Regions from separate parts of the Homo sapiens genome. Here all the other regions are linked to region 4. Evidence: fine-mapped expression QTL. A gene starts in region 4. Each other region holds a variant in brackets. All regions are shown on one strand. Distances are from middle to middle. Region 1 has its middle 220 kb from the start of VGLL3. Region 2 has its middle 30 kb from the start of MIR4795. Region 3 has its middle 26 kb from the start of MIR4795. Region 4 holds the start of CHMP2B (charged multivesicular body protein 2B).

Region 1 (2,692 bases), 460 kb before region 4:
AAAACAACACAAAACCAACAACAAAAAAAAGCTCTAGCTCTTTTTTTACCTTTAGAAGTATTCATGTCCAATATTCTCAAATGAGTGGAAATATATTCTACATAAACTCTTTAGATCCCAATGATGTTGCAATCAAAGAAATACCTGATATTGTTAACAAAAGCCAATGAGGTCTTCAGAGGAAAAACAAAGGAGAGTTTTGTTTTTAAAACAAAAACAAAAAGCAATATTCAGATAGGGGAGACACCTTTGAAACAAATGTGAAGTAAGCTCCAGATAACAAAGAGCAGGCCTTGCTTAATGAATAGGGAAAGTCTCTGCCTCAGCCCTCAATGAGGTCCACATATGCATATGAAGAATTCCAACTTGTTCAGTCCTAATTGGTTGAATACAGTTAAGTTCTGGCTGGGTAGTTTCCAAGCTCAAACCAGAAGTCTTTTTTAGCTGCCCCTTTCAGGCCGCTGGTGGAAGGAGTTTTCCCACCAGAGCTTGAGCTCCAGTTACAGGAACCATCTTAACTCAGAGGTGCAAACAAGATGTTCCTCTGAAGCTGCCCTCTCTGGGAACAAAGTGGGTGTGACCACCCTTCTCTCATTCACCTTGGCCGATGGGTTAGTTTCATTTCACAATATACAGAAACAATTGACAGCAGACAAAGATACAATAAAAAGTGTTTTTGAGTACATTTCTGTTTTTTCAAGGGATGAGGAATCATTTAACTTCAAAATCGGGCCAGAAATTAACAAAATCAACAAGTTGATCTTAAAATCATTGAGATATGTTATTGATACTTACATTTGTTGCACTTTGATTTGCTACAGTATGGTTCTCATGATACCAAACGTATGATCTTGGTCTTGAAAATTATATGATTCACAAATGATCACCAGACACTTTTGAAATACAAGTATAGGTGGCAGTTGATGGGATTGTGATCAACTCTTTGTAACTCTACTAAGAGCTAACCATTTCAAAAAAAATCTCAACATATATGTTGGCAGCAGTTACTTCTGAAAAAAAAGGACAAAAAACTTTGCAAAACACCTGTAGGTGGTTTCTTAAAGTTTTTATGTTGAGAACTCACAATTTTCTCAGTTGCCTTCCCAAACACTAGAACTCTTTAACTCCTTTTTATGCTACACTAATATATTGAAGTTCAAAAATCTTTGAAAAAAAATTATTCCTAGGAGAGAATATTGTAGATGCAGTGCTGTGAATTGTGATAAGGTATCTTACCTGAGCAAATGATTTAATAGGCTTCAC[C/T]TTAACTTTCATGTCTCAGCAAGAACTTCTAAGTAAATCTTACATGTTAAAATTTGTTTGGAGAAGAAAGAAACGGTGTTTGTGAATTTCAATTTGAATCAGAAGACATTTTGACATTATTCATGTGGAAAATATTTATGTGCATAAAACAAACAAATAAATTAAACATGTTGTTTTGGTAACCACTTCATTGTATTGTATGACAGTTGTGTGGTAACTGATGTATTATGTAGCAATTGTTTTTCCCAAACAGCTAAATATTTTCCATACACAATTTCTTTTTCCAAATGAAAAGTGCAGACAGCTCTAGAAAGTTTTGGAAATTAAAAAAAAATGTTTTTGACCTCCAGATCAAATAATTTTATTAACATTCAGTAACATGAACATTAAAAACACAGCCATCAGCATATTTTCTGCATTCTCCGCACTTATTTTATGTGACTAAGAAATTATGCACACATCCAAAATGGATGTAACCTTGTAACATATTATAAGCTTTGCTTAACACATAGATAACTGAGAAAAATACATTAATAATTCACCATATTCCCTAATGACAATATACGATCTTTTACTTTATTTGGGTGATGGATACCCTTAATTGTGTACTACAATAAAGAAAAATCATATATTTTCTTAAAGCATTAATGAAAAGGTCTTTATACTATCAGATCATCTTTGCCTTAAATGTAACAGGAATCAAGGAATATTCACTCACTAGCCTTCTAAATTTATCGATCAAATTTAGAATTGTGTGTTTAATAATAGTGTCTATTCAGAAAAACAGACTCATCTGCAATGGGTAGTAGATAAACAGACTTTTAACTCATTGAGTTACAGAGGTATATATATTGTCCTTCGAGTTATAGAACTGAAAAGCCAACAAAGACCTTCAGAAAGAAGGAAACAGAGGAGGAGGGATTATATTTCCTGAAACCAACTCTAAATGAGAAATTATATGAAGGTCTGTTTTATAGATAAAATTAAGCCTACAGATAAGTTTTCTAGTACTCACAGTGGTGTGTGTGTGTGTGTGTGTGTGTGTGTGTGTATGTATTCATTATATCTAAATTTTAAAATTAAATTAAAATTCTTTAAGAAAATTATGCATTAACCAATATGTCACTGCCATCACCATTTCCTATTGTCTTATGCACAGCACAATTCATACAATTATCATTTTTAGCAGCTCGTTTAGGTATTTCCATTTCTGGCCCATGCTCTACATAAACTATGCTATCTCTTATTTGAAATAGTGTTCTGTAAAAGCAATGGTCAAAAAAATATTGGTTTCTGATGTACAACTTTCTATTATCCCCATGATTATAGTTTATTTATATCTAGTCAAATCATTTCATTATAATTTTAATGATAACACCTTTAAATGTTTTTAATATACTTACTCATTTTTGTATATAACTTGTCAAGG
Region 2 (2,692 bases), 31 kb before region 4:
CAGCCATGTGGAACTGTGAGCCAATTAAATCTCTTTTCTCTATAAATTACCCAGTCTTGGATATTTCTTCAGAGCAGTATGAGAATGGGCTAGTACAGTAAATTGGTACCAGAAGTTGGGTGCGGCTATAAGGATACCTCAAAACATGGAAATGACTTTGGAACTGGGTAACAGGCAGAGGTTGAAACAATTTTGAGGGCTCAGAAGAAGAAAGGAAAATGTGGGAAAGTTTGGAACTTCGTAGAGACTCGTTGAATGGCTTTGCCCAAAATGCTAATAGTGACATGTACAATGAAGTCTAGACTGAGGGGGTCTCAAACGGAGATGAGGAACTTGTTAGGAACTGGAGTAAAAGTCACTCTTGTTATGCTTTAGCAAAGAGGCTGGCAGCATTTTGCCCCACCCTAGAGATCTCTGGAACTTTGAACTTAAGAGAGATGATTTAGGGTAACTGGCAGAAGAAATTTCTAAACAACAAAGCGTTCAAGAGGAAGCAGAGCATAAAAGTTTGGAAAATTTGCAGTCTGATGATGCGATAGAAAAGAAATAAAGATTTTCTTGGGAGAAATTCAAGCCTGCTGCAGAAATTAGCATATGTAACAAGGAGCCCAAGGTTAATTACCAAGACAATGGGGAAAATGTCTCCGGGGCATGTCAGAAACCACAGCAGCACTTCCCGTCACAGGCCTGGAGGCCAAAGAGAGAAAAATGATTTTATGGGCTGACTCCAGGGCCTCCCTGCTGCTCTGTGCAGCCTCAGGACTTGGTGTCCTGCCTCCCAGCATTGGCTAAAAGGGGCCAGGGTATAGCTCAGGCCATTGCTTCAGAGGGTGTAAGCCCAAAGCCTTGGTGGCTTGCATGTAGTATTTGACCTGCAGGTACAGAGAAGTCAATAATTGAGGTTTGGGAACCTCTGCCTAGATATCAGAGGATGTATGGAAACACCTGGATATACAGACAGAAGTCTGCTGAAGGGACAGAGCCCTCATGGAAAACCTCTGCTAGGGCAGTGCATAAGGGAAATGTGGGGCTGGAGCCCACATGCAGAGTCCCCACTGGGGCAGGGCCTGGTGGAGTTGTGAAAGAGGGCCACCGTCCTCCAGACTCCAGAATGGTAGATTCACTGACAGCTTGCACTGTGCATCTGGAAAAGCACAGACACTCAATGCCAACCTGGGAAAGCAGCTAGGAGGAGGGGC[C/T]TTACCCTGCAAAGCCACAGGGGTGTAACTATGCAAGGCTATGAGAGTCCAACTCTTGCATCAACGTGCCCTGGATGTAAGACATGGAGTCAAAGGAGATCATATTGGAACTTTAAGGTTTAATGACTGCCCCTTTGTTTTGGCCAATTTCTCCCATTTGCAGCAGCTGTATTTACCCAATGTCTGCACCTCCATTGTATCTAGGAAGTAACTAACTTGGTTTCGATTTCACTGGCTCATAGGTGGAAAGGACATGTCTTGTCTCAGATGAGACTTTGGACTTGGACTTTTGGGTTAATGCTGGAATGAGTTAAGACTTTGTGGGACTGTTGGAAGGGCATGATTGTCTTCTGAAATGGGAGGACATGAGATGTGGGAGGGGTGAGGGATGGAATTATATGGTTTGGCTTTGTGTCCCCACCCACATCTCACCTTGAGTTGTTATAATCCCCATGTGTCCAGGGTGGGACCAGGTGGAGGTAATTGAATCATGGGGGTGGTTTCCCCCATGCTGTTCTAGTGATAGTGAGTTCTCACAAGATCTGATGGTTTTATAAGCATCTGGCATTTCCCCTGCTGGCACTCATTCTCTCTCCTGCTGCTTTGTGAAGAGGTGCCTCCTGTCATGCTATATGTGGCCACATTCCAATATGAGGTGATGCACTATGTATGCAGACTTACTAAGAGAGTGGCAAGACTGGATTTGCAACTCTCAGCCTGTCACCCTCTTCCAAGCTGAGGGTGTAGATAAATTTTCTGGAGTGCTTTACCATCCACCCTCCCTCCATTGCTGGATATACACAGACACACCCACACACAAACACACCCCCATGCACTGGGAAAGAAAAAGAGGTGGTTCTTCCCTCTTGATGTAAGTCAAGTGATAGGACTTGGCCCTCGAAGTTTGTTAGGTACAGAAGCTGATGCCAGATGTGTACCTTAAAAAGTCCACAGGGAATAGACTGAATGGCAGAGGTAAGAGGCTACAATGGAAACAAATCTCATTAAAGGCAGAAGAAAGGTATGTGATGCTCTCTGGCTGGAGAGTAACATAAGTATCATGTGCAGCCTGAAGCCCTTTTAAGTGCTACTACAGGAGACTGCCTAGTAGGTTTATATGACCCCAATAGAGTGATGGGCCTTTGGATGCTCATGGTAGGGGCCTGAAGGAGGGGTCATATGTGGAGTGAAATGGACTACGTGAGAACAGTATTGCGCACCTCAAAGGCAACTCAATCAGAAGTTCCCAGCTGTGCATGTACCTGAGGAACCCAGGAAGGCATCTAGCAGGGCGTGTTGGTATTAGCAAACAACCACATCTAGAGAGCACCATCCACTGGATTTTATACCTGTGCCTGTCAATAAGCTCCTTCCTGTTTCTTACATCTCTCCTCTTTCAGTCGTTAACCTGGAAGGGAGTCAGGGCCATCCCAGAGATGAATGTTAGGAAGGGGTGTGGAACAGCAAGGTGATCCTTGCCCTGGGTAAATTTT
Region 3 (2,692 bases), 27 kb before region 4:
TGGTTGTTCAACCAAGTTCAGGAACACACTTTAATTCCACCCATTATCTATCATTGTGAACACAAGCCTGCTGTTTTTCTCTGCTGATAATCTATCATCTTACAGGAGTGAGGGTGGCTTCAAACCACAGGAGCAAAGAGCAGTCACAGATTTGGCTTACAAGGAGATTTATAAGTTGAACTCCACACAGAGAAATATATTCAACTCAACTTTTCCTTGCTCAAGTTATGTATAATGTTCCTTCCCTGTCTCCTTTTGGAAACTTAGCTACAATAGAGAAAAGTAACCAGATAATGAAGACAAAGTAGGAATGGGTAAATCTAAAATGTATATCTAGTCTTTCAGAATTAATTTCCAGAATATTATTTTTAATGGGAGACAAATCCTTATTTTCTGCACATAAATAGAAACCAATAGGGATGTCCTACTGAAGGACTCTCTCCTAAATGTCCTTATTCTTCCTTCATTATGCTATCTATTTTCCCAGGATAGCAACATTAATTTGACATGGCTGAATTATGCTACCTACTGTTTCCTGTATAGCACTTTCAGTGCCTCAGGCTGGGTTTCCCGCTTTGGGGATAGGGGCCAGAAAGATATTTCTAACTCTCCTGTAGTATGAGAAGCAATTAAGCTACAAGTTGCTTAGCTGTAAGCAGTTAACCTCACAAACCTAATAAATTATTTGATTATATGGAATGCTTAGAACTTTGACCCCCTTTAGTAAATATGCATGAAATTGCAAAACTTATTCTCTTTTTTTTTCACTTGATTATTTTACTATCTCCCACTTTACTCCATGCTTTAAGACGTACAAGTAGCAAATAGGATAGATGCATGGGTTCTCCCATTGCCAAATCATATGACTCTATTGTCTTTGCTGCTACTATGTTCATTGTTTCAGTTAAAGATTGTACCACTTTATTTCTGCATATGAGAGAAAGCAGCACTTTTGTCTTTGTCCCCTGTACTCAATTAAAAACAAACAAACAGGCATAAAACATGGACACTAATGAACCAAAACTGGTCTGTAATTAATTTTAAATTCACTACTAGTTTAGAAAATTAGCTAACACTGCAAATTGCATTGA[C/T]CACGATCAGACCCTTGATAACAAGGCCTATTGTGTGAAATGTGCAAGTCAGCAGAAACACAAATGAAAACCTTTCAGCTTTAAACATTTCTACCAGCATGAAAATTGAACAAAGCAAGATGAAATCTGAATTTTTTAAAACAGCTTTAAACAACTATGTCTCACACAAGCTCAATTAATAAATCACTTCAAAGTACAGTTTCCTTTTTGCATATTCATTTTTATGAGGTCAACCCATCAGAGGAATGATAGGTATGAGAGAGCAAAATTCTGCCTTTTATTCCTAGAACCTCAATAATAATATTCCAGGCAGTCTTAGTGCTCAGATAGATACGTATAGAAATAGCCTTTATTCGATTGTGAAAATTAATTTGAAAATATGCAAAATTAAAGGAATTTGCACCATTATTTAATGCAAAGAAAGGGAAAATGTATCATAACTTTATAGCTGAATAATTCCCTAATCCTGTTTATACCTAATTAATCCTGAGATTGCTTGGCTTTTAAAGAAGTGCTCTGACAACTAAATCAGAAGTTTATTTTCATTCTAATTATCCTGATATGTTATATAGTATTCAATATTTACATACTTAAGACTTGTAATAATTTCACATATATGTATTTGTTGTTGTTATTTTTCTACTTTTAAAGCAATACAACTTTCATCTGTGATTTTTGAAATAGTCCAAATGGTACAAATATAATTCTGGATTGCAGTTCATCCTCAACCATGATGTTCCCTGGGTTTGAAATTCAGTCTCATCATTTGTCAACTAAGGGAAATTGTTAAATCTATTCAACACTTAGTTTTGTTAGTTATGCAGTAGAGAAATCTGTTATTCCTGTCTTGTAGAGATAGCAATTACAGGAGCAATCTATAGGACTGAGTCAAAGAATACAGAAAAGATACTTGTTCATCTTTCATAATTTTTCGGTTGATAATCCATTTCCCCTGAATTCATGCCCTTACCTTCTCTAGACCTCCAAACAGCTCTGGAACTTGTGGCCAATCTTTTTGATTTTCATCAGTTTTCATCATTATTTGCTTCCTGAGTACTCTCACTCATGAGAAGATAATTTTCCCTCATCATTCACGTTCTCTTTCTTTCTTTCTTTTCTTTTCTTTTTCTTTTCTTTTTTTTTTTTTTGAGATGGAGTCTTGCTCTGTTGCCCAGGCTGGAGTGCAGTGGCACCGTCTAGGCTCACTGCAACCTTCGCCTCCCAGGTTCAAGCGATTCTCCTGCCTCAGCCTCCCAAGTAGCTGGGATTACAGGTGTCTGCCACCATGCCTGGCTAATTTTTGTATTTTTAGTAGAGATGGGGTTTCACTATGTTGGCCAGGCTGATCTTGAACTCCTGACCTCAGGTGATCCACCCAGCTTGGCCTACCAAAGTGCTGGGATTACAGACACTCTCTTTCTTGAATCCCTTTCCAGTGAAAACATGTACACAGCACTTCCTCCTATCCATTGAAAAATCTCATTTAAAATTCTTAATGACTTCCCCAACAAAAGAAAACAGATGCTCCCCCCAAAACTCCAGATGCTGTACAATGTCTGACACCATACACAGCTAATCTTATATAAACTAAAGATTCATTT
Region 4 (2,656 bases):
CTGATTATCATAAATAATAATCCTTGAGACATGATTCATAAATCCAGAAGTGGCTAATAATATTGACATTATTGTTATAGTGTCAATATTATTAGCCACTTCTGGATTTCTTCCATATCAGAGATAATATTTATGAAAAAAAAAATGCTACCATTATTTTTATCCTGTGGAAGGCAGTGTTGCTTTAAACAGTAGAGACTATATACAGGTACGCACGCATAGGTTGTATTTTCCATTTTATACATGCAAGGATTCTTTAAATAATTCATTACATTTTTTCTTTAACATGATATGCAGTTTTTCACAAAAAGCCCAAATAAACGGCTGTGAGGAATTCTAATAGGATCACCGTATAGCCATGACACTTTATGATTCATGATTTACAAGAAATTAAGAAATAGAGCTGGAGACATTTAGACCAGCCTACAAATTTGTGTGTGTGTGTGTGTGTGTGTGTGTGTGTGTGTGTTTTAATGTTTCCAGGCAAGAACCTTAAACAAAAAGTGTAGCATTAAAAAACTTCCCTTCGTCCTCGAGACCCCCCCAACTCTAGACACTGGATCCCCGGAGACCCACGCTGGGTCGTCGGAGTCTGGAGCCGGGGGCGGCAGGTGAGCGGCTAGGGTCCTGCAGGGGTCTGCGCGGTGCGGGGGAGGTCGCCGAGTCAGTCAGTGCCGAAAGGACCGCGAACTCCAGGGGCCAACAATCACCGGGTACGGAACTCAACGTTTCCGCCAGTTCCTGGATTACTCGAGTAAAAACAAACAAACAACAACAACAACAACAACAAAAATACTAACAGCAATGGGACCGTAATAAATCAACTCGGAGTGGGTACAGGCGGTTCCGGGACAACCCACACTTAGTCTAGGAGCCCGGAGATCCCTCATCCAGCTTTCCCCGGGGCAAGGGGTGAAGCGCTAAGCAAGGCTGATCACTGTCCTCAATCATCACCCAACCCGCGCACAGAAGCCGTGGCCCCACGCTCTCCTATCCCCGCCAGCTCCAGACTCGCCCCGCTGCCAACTCCCGGTGCAGGAGGAACTGGCAGCCGCAGACGTGAGGAAAGCGGCCGCGGCTTCAAACTCCGTAGTGCGCAGGCGCCACACAACGCGCAGGCGCCGCCTAGAAGTGACTTCTCCAAAAAGTGTGTTAGTTCCCGGTCACCTGAGCTCCGGGTGACGCGGCTGCGGTAGCTGCGGATACAAGCCTTCCGCGGGTCCTGCCTGGCGACCCCGACCTCCTCCTGCTGTCTCTCCGCTCCGCCACCCCGAACCCGCCAAGGTCCTGTCCTTTTCCTCCTGTCCTTTGCCAGCGTTGGGCCGGACCGGGCCGAGCCGGGCCGCCCGGGCGCAGTCTTTAACCATGGCGTCCCTCTTCAAGAAGAAAACCGTGGATGGTGAGTTCCAGGCCGGGCTGAAGGGGCCCAGCTCTGCGTTTTCTCGGCGTCTTTCGAGGCCTGCTGGCCGCGATTCTGCCTACTGTCCCTGGAGGCGGGGCTGGATCAAGTGGTCCCACAGGTGACCGCCCTCGCGGCACCACTTCTCTGCCTCCCTCTTGCTTCTGACTCACCTCACCTTAGGCTCACCTAGGCAGTCTGGTTGCTTCCCTATCCTCACGATTCCCCCACCCTCGGGTTTTCCTCAGCAGGATCCTGAGCGTTTCGAGGAGGCTAGCTGGCCCTTGAGTGTCAATAAACTTGGAAATCTGATGGATTTCTTGTTGGTTTCCTCTGCTTCGATTGTTGCTCTTCAGTTGGGCGATATACTACTTGTAGGCATCCATACAGGAAACTGGCAGTCTCGGAATGGGGAGGGAGGGGATAACAGGCTCCAGTTAGGAAATGAAGTTGGGTCTGGGTCAGTTGCTTCTTTAAGAACACCCCATCAGTAAAGAGATGTGAAACAAATGCTTTTTTGATTAACCCCAGTAGAAAAATAAACCCAAGGGAAGTGCCCAGATTTAGTTTTCATAATGGATTTTTCTCCCTTATGATTATTTTTTGCCAACTAAAGAAAGAGATGGGGTATATATTGTCTTCATAGAAGTTTAACATGTAAAGATAATTGTGTTGTTTCCCGCATTTAGCTTAATATCATCTTAAGCGGGGAAAAAAGTGAATGTAAAGGAATGTACAAGTTTTATGGTGCTCATATGCGATGCCTATAATGTGTTTATATAACACTTGATGTTTTCATTGATTGCTACCAGGAATTAAATTCATTCAAGTTATTTAAAAATTGTGTTCCCCATTATATGTTTAGTCTAGGTTGTTGCTGGTTCAACCAAAGAATCACTTCTTTGTAAGGGTCTAATTCTGCCACAAAAGGAGCAGTGGTAGCTAGACAGTGATTGGTACAAATAGGGTGCTCAGTCCAGACCTGGACGTAACTCCTTCATTCCTTTGTGTTGACTATTCCAATGCCAGCAAAATTATTTTGGGGAGGATAACAAAGAAGTCATCTCTGCTCTGCTGCTGTACACTTCATTTCAACACATAATCTACTTTACCTCTAATTTATCAGATGACATAATACATTTTTCCTTACTCTGGGTGACTGAACATTTTTTTGATTTATTGACTTTTTATTAAGTACCATTTGCAATACCTGGAATAACTACCAACTTCGTATATTAGGTGATACAGTGATGTGAA

What was found. PIP is the estimated chance that this variant, and not a neighbour inherited with it, causes the effect.
Region 1: its variant is fine-mapped to the expression of CHMP2B in left ventricle (GTEx, PIP 0.98).
Region 2: its variant is fine-mapped to the expression of CHMP2B in transverse colon (GTEx, PIP 0.96).
Region 3: its variant is fine-mapped to the expression of CHMP2B in whole blood (TOPMed, PIP above 0.99).

Annotation. Positions count from the first base shown.
Region 1 is chr3:86,764,866-86,767,557 of GRCh38, forward strand. No RefSeq gene overlaps it. Among named protein-coding and RNA genes, the nearest start is that of VGLL3, 220 kb to the right of the region's middle. The variant C/T (reference allele first, on the strand shown) is at 1,264.
Region 2 is chr3:87,195,156-87,197,847 of GRCh38, forward strand. No RefSeq gene overlaps it. Among named protein-coding and RNA genes, the nearest start is that of MIR4795, 30 kb to the right of the region's middle. RefSeq lists an enhancer at 1,443-1,974. The variant C/T (reference allele first, on the strand shown) is at 1,200.
Region 3 is chr3:87,199,123-87,201,814 of GRCh38, forward strand. No RefSeq gene overlaps it. Among named protein-coding and RNA genes, the nearest start is that of MIR4795, 26 kb to the right of the region's middle. The variant C/T (reference allele first, on the strand shown) is at 1,092.
Region 4 is chr3:87,226,158-87,228,813 of GRCh38, forward strand. It overlaps CHMP2B (charged multivesicular body protein 2B), which reads left to right and starts at 1,152. Exons shown (of 6, transcript NM_014043.4): 1 at 1,152-1,399. The coding sequence starts at 1,366. MIR4795 (microRNA 4795) reads right to left here and starts at 120; the gene lies at 32-120. RefSeq lists enhancers at 604-743, 854-913, 1,004-1,053, 1,104-1,173, 1,244-1,363.